4 linked regions of the Homo sapiens genome follow. The protein of the gene in region 2 purifies or fractionates together with the protein of the main gene of each other region. This does not show direct contact. Each region holds a gene or a part of one and is shown on either strand. Other genes may lie near its edges.

Region 1 (4,355 bases), on a different chromosome or scaffold from region 2:
AACATAATCATGATCCCCTAAGCCTTGCAGGTTCTCATTCTGCCTCTTTCCTTTCTTCATTTTTTCCTTTTCATTTTTTCTTTCCTTTCTCCTTTTCCCCATCCTGTCTCTCCTCTTTTTTACTATATCATATTCCTCTTTTTATACTATCCTGATATAGGAAAACTAAAGCAGCTCATCTCAAATATAAGGGAGATTTATTTATTTCATCTTTTAAACTTTTTCCTTAATGGGTTAAATGCCAAACTCCCCAGAAGCACTCAATGTAATAAAGTATAATTGTTTTCAGACATGAGGGTAAGTTTTCCATCAGTGACTAAAAAAAATTAAAAATAAATGAAAGCGAGTGGAAAGCTGAATAGTCTTCACTTGGCAATTATTCAGCCTTTGGAAATTTCCAAGCCTTTTGCAATCATTAATTAATTAGTAAAGATGGTGTTCTACTTTACTGAGGTTTGAAGCATGACATAAAGAGGTCTAGAGGTTTTCCTCAAACTGGAAGAGGAATGTCAAGGAAAGAACTGGGATAAGAATTCGGAGCTCATTTCTCATGCCCGTAGTCACATAATTAAGCCAAACAGTCAATATAAGGACAATAAGGTCCTCTGTGCACAGGTGCAGTAGAATACAGTAGTGTTTTGCTCAAAGGCCAACTGTGAAGGAACCCACCCTTTCATCAGCCAATGCCCTCACAACGCGCCCAGAATTTATCCATAACTTCATCAGCCTCTTCCCCCTTTCCCAAAGCACAGACAGGACAGATGGCTAAATATCAACCTCTAACCACTCTTAATAATCAGAGTGAAAAGTACATGGTTTGATTTTCATTTTTTCAATGCACAGCCGAATATGATGTGAAAACACATGAAACTGTTGAAAAACAAATATATCAAAAATTTTAAAAATAACATGAAATCTACTGATATCCAAAATCTGTAATCATCTAATAGATCATCTTGAATAACCACCTTGCTCAAATAAGAAGTAAAATAAAGTTCCATGTTTTCTGATGAGTGGTTTATAAAAATTCATTCCATCTCCCTGTGTCAGTTGGTGAGGACAGGCCAAATGTTAGGGATGTGGCTGGACCCAGCACTTTAGATCCAGTTCTAGCAGTGGGGGCTGATTCTTTTTCCTACACCAATGGATGGGTTCCAAATGCTGAAGAGAGGCTGGCCAGAGTGCCCAGTGACTTAGTGAGAAAACAACATCTGAAGACTAGCTCAGTACCTCTCACCAGGTGAGTCTCATCAAGACACATAGTTTTGCTTTCTCTCATGTCTGGTTCCTATGTGGGATAACACAATCCTCCAACAAGGCAGACACCATGTCATTCCTTCAGGAACATCACTCAGCCATCCTTTCAGTCACCCTGTTTTGGGCAGGGCTAAATTGTCTGTCTAGTTGAACTTAAACCTTGACAGCAGTTGTTCTGACCTAAAATTTTATTTTACTGTAATCTTCCCTGGGTAAATCTGTTGCAATTGTTGAAAACAAAAACTGTGGTTAAGTTGAATAATCTGTTTCTCTGAACTGGTTGTTTTGAAAATAGACTCCCCTTGACTGGGCCAGGAGGCACTGGTGCAAATATACTGCGACATTAACAAAGAGCAAGGCTGTCCAGATTGGCTATTATGGACAAATTCATTTTAAAAAGAAATAAAAAACTGTAATAACATTTCTTTTCATAGAGAGACTTAAGAAACTGAGTCATGTTTAAAATCATTTAAAATTCTAATTTGGAATCTATCTATCGGAAAGGGATCATGGCTGGCCAATTTCATATAGTGGTCACACATAAGGCTATAGGATTTCTCCAGCTCTTCACAGTCCCCACTGTCAGGAAGAGCTCTATTCCCCTATAGAATGTGAAATTCACATAGGACACCATTAATATGGCAGACGCTTTCATATAAGAAAAACAGTTTAGTAAATACCCTATAAGGAAATTTTTGATACAATGTTGAATATGTGAATAGATCTGTCTTGAAATGGACAATCTTGTAAAAATGTGGAAAGAATTTTTAAAAATACAGTCCAAACTTCTACCCAATCCATCCCCCAAAACTACCATTGAACTTCTAGCTAATTGAGGGCTCTCAAATTTCTGATTTCTCACAGTTCTAACTGAAAAGAAGCAAGGGCACTCTTCCAACCCAAGTGGCTGGAAACTGGCTCAGTTCCTCTATTTTCACCGATTCCAAGTTATTCTTATTGGTTCCTCTAGTCATAATGGGAGGAATCAACATCGTGTTGGTTCCAGTACTAATGAAAAATCCAAGTTGTGGTGAGTGGGCATGTGTAGTATTACACCTTACCTATTCAGACGAAGTAACAGAGAGTGTTAACTTAAAAGGTCCACATATGGACAATTAAATCAAATAAGAAGTAACTGTCACTCATAAGGAGTTTTTAAACATTGCTTAATAGTGCTAAAGGCTGAAGAATAAGATTCTTTCTGGAGGATTAGTAAAATGAATAAACAAGGGGTCACAAACAAGCTGCATTATACTGCAGCCCCTTCTCAAAGGAGAAACTGTCCAAGGCATTTGCATTATCTTAGACCTGCTTGGCCTCACCCATTTCCTGGGTCCTTGGCCACTTGTTCTGGCCCAGCAACCGCTGTGGTACCAACATTGCGGGAGTTATAATCGCCTTCACAGGGCCACAGCCTGACAGCAGTTCACTCAGTTTTGCCCTCCACATGTCTCACCCATAGATCACTACCCTTGCTGAGGCTTGAGATACTACAGACCTGTTTAATGTCCAAGCAAATGCAAGGTGTAGAGGAAGTTTCTGCACAACAGAGGGAAGCTTTAACCAATATAGGGAAGGATGTGAAAAATAAATTATTTTCTCTTTCTCCATCAGAACACTTTGTCCTCAGATGCTATGGTGTCTGTGGGCTTTGGAAGATGATTCTCTGAGATTGAGCAAGCAATTCCATTTGATACTAAACAGTGGCCATATTAGTAACATACTAAGTAGTCTCTCTCTCCTCTCTGGCTTCACTCATCCTTCCCTGGGATTGTATTTGTCAGTGAAATAAAAGTAACACACACACTTTTGCCTTAGGCTTCGCTTCCTGGGGAAGGCAGACTAAGATAGGCACCCCTGTATTCTCCTCCTTATGTTACTGAGTTTCTTACCTTTGGCTGCAATGGTGGCGCACAGGGGGCTGAAACAGGATCTGTGATATAGGTCTTCTTGGGACCAGTGACTGGATACATCCCAGGAGGGTTCTGGTTCCCTGCTCCAGGAGGAGTGTACCCTGGTTCCCGTTTCCAGGTATTTGGGTGACCTTGTTGACCATAGGTAGGGTCAGAGTCATTTCTGCCCCCATAGCCTGGCCCTGCTGCATAGTAGCCTTCATAATAGCGTCCCTGGTTGGGGGCATACCCATACCCAGGCTCCGGCTGAAGTCCTGGTGGTGGAATGTAGGCATAATCCATGCCTCCCCGTGTTGAAGGAGGTGGACACTGCCCAGAGACAGGAACTGGCTGAGTGTTATAGCCCTGGGGCCCTGAGCCATAAATTTGTCCTGATGAAGGGGCAGCCATATAATGAGGGCTGGGCTGGGCTGACTTCACCTGCACATTAAAGGTAGGCCTTGAAGAAGTGGAGGCCGTGGTGTAGGAGGCTGGGACTGGCTGAGGCTGGGGTTTGAGTGTTCCGATTGGAGCCACAGGGATGGGTCCAGCCTGGGGTGCAGGCTGTGGTTTCAATGTAGACTTCTTGGTTGCTGTTAGAGGGGGTTGGTTCGGGATGACCATTCTCTTGTGTCCTGTGACTGGGGTCGAAACTGGAGGAGAGGCTGTTGAACCAGTGGAGCTCTAAAAAGAATAGGAAAAAAAAGAAAGAAAGAAAGCAAAAATTACTGCCAACGAAACTCAATAAAAATGAATAAATGAAAAATATTAATAACTGCTAATTATTATTTATTACTATGTAGAACACAAATAAGGCATAATCTTGCCTTCAAAGTGTTCACAGATGAACACAAAAATCAGTTGTATATCTGTGCACTGCCGACGAATAGCAGAAAAGGAAAGAAAGGAAAAAATTCTACTTACAGTAGCATAAAAAACTTGGAAAAAAGTTATCTAAGGAGGAGAAAGATTATATACTGAAAACTATTAAACATCGGTGAAAGAAATTATACAAGACACAAACAAACGGATAAACATCTGTGTTCATAGGTTGAAAGACTTGATATTGTTAGAATGTATATCCTACCCAAAGTTATCTATAGATGCAGTGAGATCCCTATCTAAATACCAAAATGAAGTTTTACATACATAGAAAAAACAATTCTAAAACTCACATGGAACCACAAAAGACCACAAAAAGCCTTA
Region 2 (5,180 bases):
TTGCGTGAGTTGGGTTCTCCGGTCCAGGAGTTGAAGAATATCTCTGCGATCACAGACGATGAGCATCTGATGAAGTGTTGTGATGGTCTCTCCTCAGAAAAATGCACACAGTAAATCTTTCATACAGGTAGTCCAAAAACTCACCATTCTGGCATTAAACGGACCTCAGGATAAAGTACTACAAAACCTGCAACTGATTTTCAGCTAAAAAATAAAACGTATATAGAGACAGACCTATAGAAAGATAAAAAACTAATATAGCAAACACTAACAATCACTGACCTGGGGTGTAAGTATAGAGGTGCTCACTGCACTATGCTAGAAGTCAGCAAAACTTATTCTATACATTGCCAGACAGTAATTATTTTCAGCTTTGCAAACCTAACTACTGAACTCTGCTTGCGTGGCACTGAAAACAACCATAGAACCAGAACTAGAGAAGCAAACAGGCATAGCTGTGTTCCAATAACTTTACTTGCAAAAGCAGACAGTGGGCTGAATTGGACCCATGGACTGTAGTCTGCTGACCCTTGTGTTAGTCTTCCAAAGTTATGCATGTCTGAAAACTTTCATAATAAAATACTGTGGGGAGGCCAGGCGCAGTGGCTCATGCCTGTAATCCCAGCACCTTGGGAGGCCGAGGCAGGCGGATCATGAGGTTAGGAGATCGAGACCATCCTGGCTAACACGGTGAAACCCCGTCTCTACCATAAATACAAAAAGAAATTAGCCGGGCGTGGTGGCGGGCGCCTATAGTCCCAGCTACTCGGGAGGCTGAGGCAGGAGAATGGCGTGAACCTGGGAGGTGGAGCTTGCAGTGAGCCGAGATGGTGCCACTGCACTCCAGCCTGGGTGACAGAGTGAGACTCTGTCTCAAATAAATAAATAAATAAAATAAAATAACATAAAATACTGTGGGGAGTATTGACCTAGTTGCCTATTTCTTTCCTCTTTGTTTTCTCCAAGTTGATCTGTGTGTTCTTCTCTCAGCCTGAGCTATGGGGAAATATACACATGGGCTAGGGCCATACTAGGTGAGCAACAGCCCTGAGGACAATGAGATGGTACAGGGAATAATTACAATTAATAATCATAATCATAAATGCCAGAACAATAGCAACAAACATTTATTGTTTGCTACGTGCTTGGCAGCAATCCAAGTGATTGACATGGATGATTAACACACTGAATCCTCATAACTGCTCTGAGGTATGTATTGTTAGCAGCGTCCCCACTTCACTGATGCACAGAGGCGAGTGAGGACACTGATGCACAGAGGTGAGGCTGTCACTTACTGGAAAGCAATGAAGCCAGGCAGCCTGACTCAATTTCAATATCATACTGTCATTTAGGCAAAAATGTTTGTATCATGAAGCTTCCATAAAAACCAAAGAGGAAAGGATTCAGAGAGCTTCCTGATAGCAGAACATGCACATTCTTGGAGGGTGGCATCCCCAGGGATGGCACGAAAGCTCCCCGCCCCTTCCTCCATAGCTCACCCTATGCACCTCTTCATCTGTATCCTTTGGAATATCCTTTATAATAAACCGGTAAACCTAAGTGTTTCCTGGAGTTCTGTGAGCCGCTCCAGCAAATTAATCAAACCCAAAGAGGGGGTCGTGGGAACCCCAACTTGAAGCTGGGGATGCCCAAGAGGTGGGCCCATGACAATCAGGCTGCTTTCCCATCCAGAGAGCTCCCTTCCTTCCACTGCTGTTCTTTGGGATTCTGCTTTTGGTTTCATTAAAAGTGTTTCTTCAGGCAGACAGCATCATCAATGCTTGAGAAAGATGGCCTAGGGTGGTACTACAGAGCTGCACTGTCCAGGTTCAAGGCTAAACTGCTTACATATTAGCTGTGGAATCTTGGGCAATCCTTGTACCTTTCTGAGCCTCAATTTTCTCATCTGTGAAGTGGGGATGATGAGAATACCTACCCTCAGAGGGTTGTCTTGAGTACAAAATGACATTCTACAGGGACACCCTAGCACCAGGGGAAGATTAATAATGGCAGCCGTGGCAACCACGCCTCACTGACAGCATCCTGATTTTGTTCAGATTATTAAGAAGGACATCGTGGCAGCTGGTCCACTGATGTTTCTTTTCCCTTTTTTCACCATGACAGAATAATAACAGTAAATATTTCCTTAGTCTCTACTATGCCCCAGGCTTTAATGTTTTAATTCATTTGACCCTCACAATCCCATGAGGGAAATACAGAATCCCCCGTCTTGAGGCAGAGAACACAAAGGCACAGGGAGCTTAACTGCATACAGCTTACTGGTAGTAAAGCCAGGATTTGAATCCCAGCCACCAGGTTCTTAACCAGTACTATGGATTCATATTTGCTCTGTTTTTTCTTTTTTGTTGTGCTTGTTGTTGTTTTGAGGCAGGGTCTCACTCTGTTACCCAGGCTGGAGTGCAGTGGCACAATCGTAGCTCACTGTAGCCTTGACCTCCCGGGCTCAAGTGATTCTCCCGCCTCAGCTACCCAAGTAGACGGGTCTACAGGCAGGTGTCACCAAGCCCAGCTAGTTTTTTAACTTTTTGTAGGGATGAGGCCTCACTATGTTGCCCAAGCTGCCCTCAAACTCCTGAGCTCAAGCAATCCTCCCACCTCGACCTCCCAAAATGCTAGGATTATAGGCATGAGCCACTGCACCCGGCTTTTTTTGGTTTTTCTCTTGTAGAGGGGTGGGGTGGTGCCATGAATCCCCTTAGCAGGTCTAATAATGAACGCAATTTTGAAAGAGGTGAACATAAACAACACTAGAAGATATGTATAATAGCAGAAATGACATGTGAACACAACTCCTGATTTCCACTGGTAAGTCACAGGTTTTGCTAACGCTACCTATGATATACTATAGTGATATTATAATCTATAACAGAAGGGAAGTTAAATGTAAGTTAAAGGTTAATGAAAATAAAGATGTTATTTTTGCCATCCAAATTCATGGACCTGCCTGGGAATTGCAGATGATCCCCAAGTTAGGAGCTCCTGCATGGGGCTATACTGCTGTTCATAATCCTTGGTTTTCAGCTGTACACATGACCCCTGGAAAAGACATTTCTGAATTGCCTTTGCATCTGAATGTGACTATAAAACTAACATCTGGCCAATAAAATCCAAGTGGAAATGTTTTGTGCAACTTATAGGGATGGGGGTCACACTTATCTTCCCTCCTTCCTGTCTGGAATGGAGCTATAATGGTTGGGGCTTCGGCAGCCAACTTGGGGACCTGAGGTAACCTGGGGGACACGGAGGGTAGAATGGAGGATACAACCAGCGCATAATGGTAAGAGCCTGGGACCCTGACACCATGAAGTGCCACAGCAGCCTGGATTGCCACCAGACATTTTGGTCATCAGTCAGATAGAAACTTCAAGCTCATTTAAGCCCCTGTTATTTAGAGTTTTTCTACTACTTACAGCCAAACTTAACTTCAACTAACTCTGCATATGACCTAGTTCTTGGCAAAGAGATATACAAGCAAGTCTGCTGAGGAGATTCAGGAGAGATTTTCCTCCTTCATAAAAGGGAGGAGGGAAAGAACCTCTGTGTCCTAAGCTGGCCTCTGCTAAACTGCACTAAAAAGTGCAGTTCCACTAGGACAGCAGATGCTGCTGGAATCTTATAACCAAAACAGGCCAGTCAAAAAAACCGCATTTCTGTGATATCTTTGAGCTGACCCAATTCTGTGATAGCTTTGAGCTGCTGAACTTGCTATATGAGAAATAAAGAGAACTCTTACTTGTTTAAACAACTCTAGGTTGGGGTCTCCGTCACATTCCTGATAGAAAATCTATTAATATCATTTCAGAAACCTTGACTGGCCATTGATCATGTCATATCCTGAGAATTCCCTGTGCACTGACTATCTCCCAAGTGTGTCCCCACCAAGCACCTGCTACAGTTGTGATACTGTGAGATACAGATTTGGGCTTCATCCCCATTTCCTTGCATACAACTCCTCAAATCTTTGGAATCTCCAAGGCGCTTTTTGTATGCTAATGTTGACTGATACCTTCAGGATGGGGTCCATGGTCACTGGAAAGATAGTCATGGAAAACAGAGAGGCATGATTAGAGGGTTGGGATTTTCAGTCCCACCCCACAACCTCCAGGGATCGGAGAGGGGCTGAAGGTCAAGGTGATCACCAGGTTTAATCAATCCTGCCTACCTAACAATGCCTTTATAAAAACCCAAAAGGACAGGGCCTGGGAACTTCAACATAGCCGAACACACAGAGGTTCCTGGAGGGTGGTGCACCCAAGAAGGGCATGGAAGCTCCACACCCCTTCCCCCATAGCTCACCCTATGCCTCTCTTCATCTGTATTCTTTATACTATCCTTTATAATGAACTGATAAACTTACATGTTTCCCTGAGTTCTGAGAGCTGCTCTAGCATATTAATCAAACCCAAAGGCAGGGTGGTCATGGGAACTCCAACTTGAAGCAGGTAGATCAGAAGTTCTGACGACCCAGAATGGCAACTGAAGGCGAGGGCCAAGGGGCAGTTTTGAGGCCTGAGCCCTCAACCTGTTGGATCCAACACTGTCTCCAGGTCGTGTCTGAACTGAATTGGAGGACATCCAGTTGGCGTGTGCTGCAGAACTGAATGCTTGCTTAGTGGTGGTGAAGAATCCCTCCCCACCCCAACACACATTTAGTCACGGAAGTCTTCTTCTGTGTTGTTGATTGTTGTGTTAAGTGAGAGAATAGGAATTGGGATTTTCCAAAGAGTCCACCCATATGGTTCCATGACAGCACTTACCACCCTAGACTGGGACTCTCTGTGTCCCAGCAGGCCTCGGCACAGAGCCTGCTCTGTGGTGAGTTAATAAATAAAATCCGCCTTCCCACTATATGCACCTGTGGAAAGGGGACCCACTTTTGAAGATCCACCCTGCATTCAACCCATGGAGCCTTCCATAATATGAATGTATATGGTATAATCCCACATGTAGTATGTTTTCCCTGCACATTCAGAATAAAAGCTAAGGCCTTACTCTGGCCTACAAGGCCCAACACAATCTGACCCTAGTCTACTGATCCATTCTCACTGGGCCTGGCTTGTCACAACTGCTTCCTTGATAGTAACCAAAAAAACAAACAGCCCAGTGTATTCCCAACCCAGGCTTTAGCACTTGCTGACTTGGTCCCACACGGTTCCCCA
Region 3 (4,355 bases), on a different chromosome or scaffold from region 2:
ACTATATATTGCCAGAAGAAAACACAGGAGTAAACTGGCAGGACCTTGGATTTGGTGATAGATTGTCAGATATAATGCCAAAAGCATACACAATCAAAGAAAAAACAAATTCAACTTCACACGAATTAAAAACTTCTGTGCAAAGAACACTAACAAGAAAGTGAAAAAACAGCACACAGTAAGACAGGAAATATTTGCAAATCATAAACCTGATTTGTATCCATATTTACATATGTAAAGAACTCTTAAACTCAACAACCAAAAGACAATCCAATTAAAAAATTGATAAAAGACTTGAACAGACATTTCTCCAAAGATACACAAATGGCCAACACATGAAAAGATGCTCAACGTCAGTAGTCATTAGGGAAATACAAATAAAAATCACAATGAGGCACCACTTCACACCCACTAGGATGGCTATAACCAGAAAACAAAAGTGCTGGCGAGGAGGTGGAGAAACTAGAATTCTCAAAAATTGCTGGAAAAAATGTAAAAGTGTGCAGCATCTGTGGAAAACAGTCTGGGAGTTCCTCAAAAACTTTTTAAACATAGAATTATTTCATAATCCAGCAATTCTATTCCTAGATACATGCACAAAAGAATTGAAAACAGGTATTTAAACAAAAACTTGTAGAAGAATGCTCTTAGCAATACTATTTATAAGAGCCAAAAGGTGTAAACAATCTAAATGTCAACTGATAAACAAAACGTAGTATATCCATACAATGGAGTATTATTCAGCCAAAGAAAGAATGAAGTACTGATACATGCTACAACCTGAGTGAACCTCGTATACATTGTGCTGAATGAAAGAAGCCAGGCACAAAAGGTTACATATTGTATGATTCCATTTATATGAAATCTTCAGAACAGGCAAATCCATATAGACAGAAAGCAAATTGGCGGGTGCCAGACGGTAGGGGTAAAGGGGAATGGCGAGTGACTGCTTAATGGGTACAGGGTTTCCTTTTGGGGTGATGAAAATGTTCCAGAATTAGCGGTGATGGCTGCACAACATTGTGAATGTACATACTGAAGTAACTGATTTGTACACTTTAAAATGGTTAATTTTACCTCAATTAAAAAAAATCACACAGTTCACCCTTGACAAATCCAGGAACTATACTCAGGAACTGACTCCAAGTCCTCTCCCCACTCAGCTATCCTGTTTCCTCCACAAACCAAAGGAGCTCTGGACCACCTTGGTAATGGACTTTTGCCTCTATATACTGCCAGCCAGGCATAGTACCTAACCATATTTGTGATGATGGAATTCCCACAGCTGTCCAAGCATACACAAGTTTCTAAATAAGATATTTTCTTATAATGGACTCACATTACAAACCATCTTGGACCAAGGTCTGCTTTCATGTCACAAAGTCATCCTTTATACAGAAGTTAACCATCATCCACCTAACTGATAAACCAATGACAGCTATGAAGTCTGGTCCCTCACAAGATGATATTCCTGTTTTCAAGAGTATAGCAATGAGGTTTATGCCTTCAATTAATCAAAACCATTCTTAACCAATAATTCTTGGCATTTTCCACCCCTTATATTTTCTGTTCTGTTGGCAGGCTACAACTCTTAGAAATATGAAGCACAAAATTGACCTTAAAAGCCTCTCTGCTAGGTTAAGGTTGCCAATGTGGCAGAAATGGATAAAAGACAAACTGGTTGTGACCATTTGCATTACAACCCATCCTAAATAGTCACTCTAACACCAAGTCTTCGAGGTAGAAGCCTTCACACAACTTTTTGGAAACCAGTTTGCTCAGTGCTTTCTTCTTTCTGAGCTCAATGAGGGCCTACATCTCCAACTTACATCCATATCCCTCAGGTACCATCAATGATAAATACTTCAAAGTATGAGAGTTTTTACATGCATGCAACTGGAAAATTAAGCTATAATATCAAGTTAATTGGAAAAAATACAGCTGCAAAAACTATTCCTGGGAATCTCACAGTTAGATACACATTCCCTAACATAGCCAAGTATTCCATTTTCAGCATACCAACAATATAGTCTTTGTTCATCAGCTCAATGGGAGGATGATGTCAGGGTCACTGGAGCCCAGATCACCACTGGCCTTTAGGAGCTCTACAGCTTTCCAGTTGAGAAAGAAACTTGTGGCCTAATCACCAACATCTGAGTCAGCCCCTTCAACAGTCCTGGCAAAATTTCTTCTCAGTAAAAAGTAGTCTCCAAAACAAGACCCCTAAGAACGTGGGAGAGGGGTAATCAGACACCATTGACCTACATCCCTAAAAAGTTAGGAGAAATGTTTGAGTAACCAACAGACTAACACCTACATTGTAGGCATGTAAGACACCTCATCCTCCCTCACCACTTCCTCTTTTTGGGCAAGCTTCTCAAAGGAATTTCCAACACTTGCCACTCCCATTTCCTTACTTTTTACCCACTTCATTTTGGTTTCTGCCTCTTCCAATCTAAAATGGTTCTTGCTGAGGTCAAAGACTCCATCTTGCTAAATTCAACAGATCATTTTTGTTCCACATCTTTACTTGATGACACCTCTCTATTTGAAACATTCTTCTCTCACCTTTTATGATGCATCTTAAACTAGAATTAGATTGTGAAGGAAACAGCTAAGACAAAAACCAAATATTGTTTAAATTACTCTTGAAAATCCTTTAAATGGCCCGTTAAATATCGCACACCTGTATACAAGTAAATAAAACTTTTCTCTCTCTCATTTAATAAAAAACATGGTAGAGCGCATTCAGTTAAGTTTGCACACTTTAATTCTGAGCAAGGCGTCATTCCACTGTACCTCTGTGGCCACTTCTCATTCTCTTCCTGGGCTATCCTCCTCTACTAAACTTCAAAATGCTGGGCCTGAGCCCTTTTTTCTTAATCTCTGTCAGTGGTTCTCAACTTCCACAGCTAAGTGGAATCACCTCAGATTCGTCCAAGGCAGCAAATCAGATCAAGTAAACAGAAAAAGAAATTTCTTAGGTGGACCACAGCATTAGCATTTTTTAATCATTCAGTGATTCCAATGTGCAACCAAGATGAGAACACTGTTCTATGCTCTCTTCCCAGACCAGGGATCACATGCTCAAAAGCCTACAGTCAGAGAAATAAATGAGCAAAGTGGGCCAGGCATAATTTTAGGGAGTGGTGGGCTCTGTAGTGAAATAGAAGAGCTGCGATCATCTGTGACTTAGCTCCAATTATTGCTGCCATATTGGAAAACCAACTCAGTAGTGCTACATTTTCTCATTTTTAAAGAGAAACCCCAAATCTGGATTTTTCATGAGAAATCTTCAGATTTTAAAATATTGGCAACTAATTCAAAATTAAACAATAACAAAACCACTGTATGGGCAAAACATCTGTGAGTCAGATTCAGCTGTAGGCTACTGCTTTGCAACCACTGCCCTAGATAATTTCATCCACAGCCTTTAATTTACACCTAAAAATTCGTGCCTCCAGTTTAGCCCTCTGCTCTTGGCTCTGAATTAGAATTGTCAAATGCTTATGTGACCTCTCACTTGAAAATCTCAGCAGTCCCAATGTAAACTGTGATTTAAACTCATCTCAAAACTATTTATCCTTAAATGTTCTTTACTTCAGGTAACACCACCACCATTCACTGGTTGGGCAAGCTAGAACCCTGGGAGTCATCTTAGGATCTCATTTCTCCCTCTCAACCCTTGTACCATATCAACCACCAAATCCTATCAATTACGCCTCCTAAATATATCTCATGAATATATGTACTTCTCTCCATCTCCAATACGACCATTCTTTTCTCTCAGCCACCACCTTTTCTCTCCTATGTTATCCACAGTAACCTTAATTAGGGGCAGCTGTCTCCCACACTCAATCTTGTTTCCTTCCAAAGCATTCTAATATGACCAGAATATTTTATAATCACAAATAATTACAAATATATACACATATACACGCATTACATAAATATATACTTATGTAAATATATGTGTTTGTGTGTTTATTTCACCCAACAATTCCATTTCTAGGAATTTACCCTATAAATATATTTATTCACATATGAAACAGCATATTCGTAGCACTGTTTACGGTAAATTACTGGAAACAATCTAAATGTCTGTCAGTGGGGGAATGGTTAAATAATCTATGGTATATCCATACAGTGAAATACTGTACAGTCATTCAAAAAAATAAGGAAACTATATACTGAAGTGGAAAGATTCCCAAGACATTTTTAAGAAAACAGAGTGTACAGTATGCTACCATTTGTGTAAAACAGTAAGAGGAAAGATATGCATTTCCTTGAATGCCCACAAAAAATGTCTACAATGATATACAAAACTAGTATCAGTGGTTATTCCTTTGGAAGAC
Region 4 (4,355 bases), on a different chromosome or scaffold from region 2:
TGTTTCAACAAACTTATATGTAACCCATGTCCAGTGAAGTGCATATTTCTACTTGTATACACACATTCAAGGATGATGAGTCTACCCATAAGAGGTCAGGAAAAGCCCTGTGTAACCACCCCCATGTGGACACACAGGGAAGTAGCATTGGCTGCAGGAGCCAGAACTCAGACTGGGGAGAACATGACAGGAAAGAACGAGCGCATTCCCCACACACAAAAGTGTGGAAGAACCATAACCCAAAACACAGTCTGAGAAATATTAAATCATACGTTAAAAAAAATTCCTTGGATTACATAATTTTGACATTTCTGGGTAGAATAGCTCTTGCCAGCTTTTTCTTCAAGTACTTGTGAAAAATAACACAGGACCCAAAAAAGCGACAACGATTAATGAGGCTCCACTGAGAAGTGGCTCATTTTCATTGCTTGGGTGAAACAATTTAATTCCTGGAAGTGGATCAAGCAACTGTTACTAAGTATCTTAAACTCTTAATAAAAATAATGACTATTAAAAAAACATACTTTATGGCTACAGCTGCTGAGTGGTGGGTGAAAATCCTCTTCTTCCACATACTTCCTCTTAAAGTATGTGATCTTGGATGTTGTTATAGGATTTGAAATTCCCCTGTAATGTGATCCTGTGGTAATAAATCAGATATGACAAATGACATGCGGTTTGCCAGAGGTTCTCCAAACAAAATACTTTCGTTTCCTTTCCTTCTAGAGGATAACTTGGCTACATATTTGTCTGTACATGTGGTGATTAAAAATAAACATTTGTCTTAATAGTTGCTATCATATGGAATCCTGTGACCCAGGCTAGGAAAAGATTTCTAGGCAATTATAGAGGAAAATCACATATTTTAGCATTTAATAAATATGCAGAATCTTAATTCTATGCAAAAGGAAACTGCAACATTCATAAAGGGGAGGAGTGTAATTTCTCTAAAATATATTAGTATTTATTTAAATTGTTTAATTAAATTCATGACAACATAGCACCACTGTTAAAGATGTATACATCTTTAACTGTAACCACTGATAACCAAACAACTTTGAAATCTTATTGGCTTTAGGTTAGTGAACAAATGGTTATCTGCACATTGGGATTATAGCATTCCTTTTTTTCAAAATACAAAATTCAAATTTTTAAAATTTGAGTTAAAATTTTGGGTAACTAATGTCCTTTTCACTCTCCAAAATGTAGTATGCCAACCATGAAGACCACAGTTTTTAATCTTTTTTAGCAAAACAGACTTCATTGAGTACTTGTTTTATATTTTAGTTTCTTTTAAAAATAGCTAATACTGCAAAAAAATCCAAAGGAACTTAAACTATAAGAAGAAAGAATCAGGAAGAACATACTTCTATTTTCTTGGCTTTAAATTTTTTTCCTACAATCCTAAAACCAATTGTGTGCTTTACCCATTTATGCCATAGGTTGCAAATTTTTTTGTGTTTGAAAAGTCAGACCTTGGTGATGACCTTGAGCAGTAGGATATAAATAACTTCCACAAGCTTAGCGTTCCAATAATGGAACACTGGGCATAAATGGGTTAACAAAGAAAAGAAGCTCATAGCTGCTGGCCCAAAGTGCAGATTCCTTTATATCTCATGGGATAAAGGTGTCATTGTTGAGCCCACCAGAGCTTTCATAGTTGTGAGAGAACCATACAGTTCCACAGGGTAGAAAACCAAAACCCAAACTCAGAGTTTCAATATCTGGTTTGGCCCTCTTAAAAATACAGACACATGACTTATATTCAAAAAGCAGCATGGGTAGACACAGGTTTGAATGCAATTTAAATATCACCTCTGGTCCTCTCTCTGGAGCTCTGGACTCACTTATGAGAGGCGCACAGGCAGCCCGGGAAGTCCCTGGAGCTTTAGCTCTCCTGGCTCAGAGGGGCACCCCAGACACCACCTCCTGTCCACCAGGCTGGCTGCAAAGGGCAGCGAGGGGTGGGGGGGATGGGCGCAGGTCAAGGGCAATACCTGCCAGTGGGGGACCAGCTCCCCGGTCTCCCTGCAAAGGAGCTTGTGCTGGCCCTGGGGGGCTTGGGCCTCCGTAGCTGTCAGCCTCCCATAGTGTTTGGTACCCAGCAATTTCAGCAGCTCCTTCCGAGACAATGGGCTCGCAGAATCTATTCATGGACAGAACCAGAGTCATCTCTGACAGCCTCAGATCTGAAAAGAAAAAAAAAAAAAACAAGAATGAAGAAAACAGCCCTAATCAAGAGCAAGCCAAGGGACGGCCTTGGCATCTTCATTTCTTTGCTTTGGGAAACTTTTACTTCTCGGCCCTCCCCTTTACCCTGAAACATTTTATTATTTTTTCAAAGAAAACCTCAGCAAACTCTCTAGCTGCTATTAGCTCAGCCTCTGTGTTCAGCAATCTGCATTTCATGGGCGGATCTTTAAAACCCCATTTCTTATTGTTCTCAGATTCCCTTCAGCCCTCTTCTAGACAGCTGCTTTGCCTCCTAAACACATTTTCCTCCTGACCTTCCAAAGAAAATGTACTGCTAAGAAGCCAAAACCCTTGCGCTTCCTTTCTATTAATAAGGCAAAATCAATTTTCTAGTCAATCCCCCGGGAGTCTCCTTTGATGAAATCCACTAATCAATCAAAAGAAAAGGGCAGGGGAAGCAGAAATATCCACCGTAATTCCAACTGATGCTCTGAGGTTCAGTCTGTTCCGCTGCCCCCTGCACCCTCCTCCTCTCGTTTCCGCAGGCCAGTTCCTCTACAACATGCTGGGGCTCCCTCCACTTTCTTCTCCCAAAGCAAAGCAGACAGAGAGACACTTGGTAGTTGTTTCCACCAGCCCTGATCGGCCTGAACTGGATCTGCCTCCAGTCAAAACACTGCGAGATGAAGACAGAAAATTGGCTCCAGTTTCAAGCCGTGAGTTGCAGTCCCACAGGAGCCAAGCACAACATCAACGGAGCAGGCAGAATATTAAACAGGAGCCAGGCTCTGGGGCCAGAGGCAGCCAACAACTCTTTACACTGCAAAGCCCAGACACAGAGCAGGAACTTTCCAAGAGGCAACACATCACTGCCCTTCTCTCCAGTTCACGCCCTTCTCCCTTGGGCCTGCAGGGAGATGGGAGCTTCTCTGCTCTGTGAGGCTTCCTGGGCCCCTCGATAGCTCAGGCAGTGAGGCCGCTTTCATGGGGGCTCTGTGTCTTCACTTGGCCCTTTGCAGGTCTCGAGGTAGGGTCAAGAGTAAGTTCAAGGGAGAGGAGAGTCTGATATGAAGGTAAAAAGACCTAGCAGCCATAGACCAGTGGTGACAGTAGCGCAACCTCAGTGCCTCCTTAACTGCCAATCCCTTTAGGAGACTCAAGCCCCCACTATCTCATTCTGTGGTTTCAAGAACTGTCACACAAGTGACGTCAGGCTTTCTGAAGATTGATTGTCTTTCAAACATAAACTAAGGGCCCAGTTCTTGCTTTCTTTTCCAAATTATACAGCTTGTAATGTTTCTGGGAAAGAGTGAATCTACCATTGTCTCGTGGGAGACTATTATTACCTACATGCTATAACAAGGGTCCACTTCCAAGGAAAAAGAGGAAAAACACCAGGGTAAGGCGAAATAGCATCATTAAAGTGACAATGTCCTTCTGGCTAAAAGAGCAGCTCTTGGCAGCAATGACTCTACCTTTCACCCAGTCTTCTCTCTGAGGTCTCAAATTCTGTCCCAACCACACTGAATAATGAAGCAAGATCTTTTGACAGACAGGGAAGGTGTACAGGTCAGTGGAGAGAATTAGGACTCAGCTGGTTTGGGCTGCTACAACACCTCCCCGTTCTCTTTTAAGATGCCCTCCAAAGAGACATCAGTACGGACTTATTAGTAAACCTTAAAACAAGTGGGCAAAAGAAAGGTTCGATTAAATCTTTACAAAGAAACGATGGGACATGTCATTTATTTTTCTCTTTGAGTCATCAACAAAGAAATTTAGCCTACATTGATTTAACAAATTAAGTCCTTCTGTCTATCATTTCTCAAACTCCTCATCCAAGTAGGGTATCAAACTTCATGATGATTTATTCCCTGGAAGACTCTCATGAAATTGTCCAGTTTCTTCACCTATTCTAAGAGACAATCATATCAGGAAATACTATTGCCAAGAGCACATGAATTACAGCTTTTCAACAGTCAGCAGCCCTTTCTTATTGAGAGAATCAACATTTTCTAGTTTGAAGTTTACACTCACTTTTGTGTTAGATCATGGGAATAAGATGCAAGCCTTTTGCCTATGCAGACTTTTATTTCATGTAAACAAAAGCAGGTTGTCAAACTCATGCCCCTTAAGAAAGAAAAACATTTGCAGGCTCCTGGCAG

The links. The genes of interacting proteins can lie anywhere in the genome.
Region 1: the proteins of PPP2R1A (region 2) and LPP purify together in Homo sapiens (affinity purification with mass spectrometry; 5 studies listed by BioGRID and IntAct, with this or other methods). This does not show direct contact.
Region 3: the proteins of PPP2R1A (region 2) and PPP2R3A purify together in Homo sapiens (affinity purification with mass spectrometry; 7 studies listed by BioGRID and IntAct, with this or other methods). This does not show direct contact.
Region 4: the proteins of PPP2R1A (region 2) and SERTAD4 purify together in Homo sapiens (affinity purification with mass spectrometry; 5 studies listed by BioGRID and IntAct, with this or other methods). This does not show direct contact.

What each region holds. Positions count from the first base shown.
Region 1 is NC_000003.12:188,608,639-188,612,993, reverse strand, and holds part of LPP (lipoma-preferred partner), read right to left. Parts: intron 3,834-4,355; coding exon 3,150-3,833; coding exon of another isoform or gene 3,129-3,149; exon of another isoform or gene 52-3,128; intron 1-51. UniProt on the Homo sapiens protein: May play a structural role at sites of cell adhesion in maintaining cell shape and motility. In addition to these structural functions, it may also be implicated in signaling events and activation of gene transcription.
Region 2 is NC_000019.10:52,194,880-52,200,059, reverse strand, and holds part of PPP2R1A (serine/threonine-protein phosphatase 2A 65 kDa regulatory subunit A alpha isoform), read right to left. Parts: intron 1-5,180. UniProt on the Homo sapiens protein: The PR65 subunit of protein phosphatase 2A serves as a scaffolding molecule to coordinate the assembly of the catalytic subunit and a variable regulatory B subunit.
Region 3 is NC_000003.12:135,968,710-135,973,064, reverse strand, and holds part of PPP2R3A (serine/threonine-protein phosphatase 2A regulatory subunit B'' subunit alpha), read right to left. Parts: intron 1-4,355. UniProt on the Homo sapiens protein: The B regulatory subunit might modulate substrate selectivity and catalytic activity, and might also direct the localization of the catalytic enzyme to a particular subcellular compartment.
Region 4 is NC_000001.11:210,235,778-210,240,132, reverse strand, and holds part of SERTAD4 (SERTA domain-containing protein 4), read right to left. Parts: intron 2,848-4,355; exon of another isoform or gene 2,665-2,847; intron 2,190-2,664; 5' UTR 2,173-2,189; coding exon 1,998-2,172; intron 641-1,997; coding exon 525-640; intron 1-524.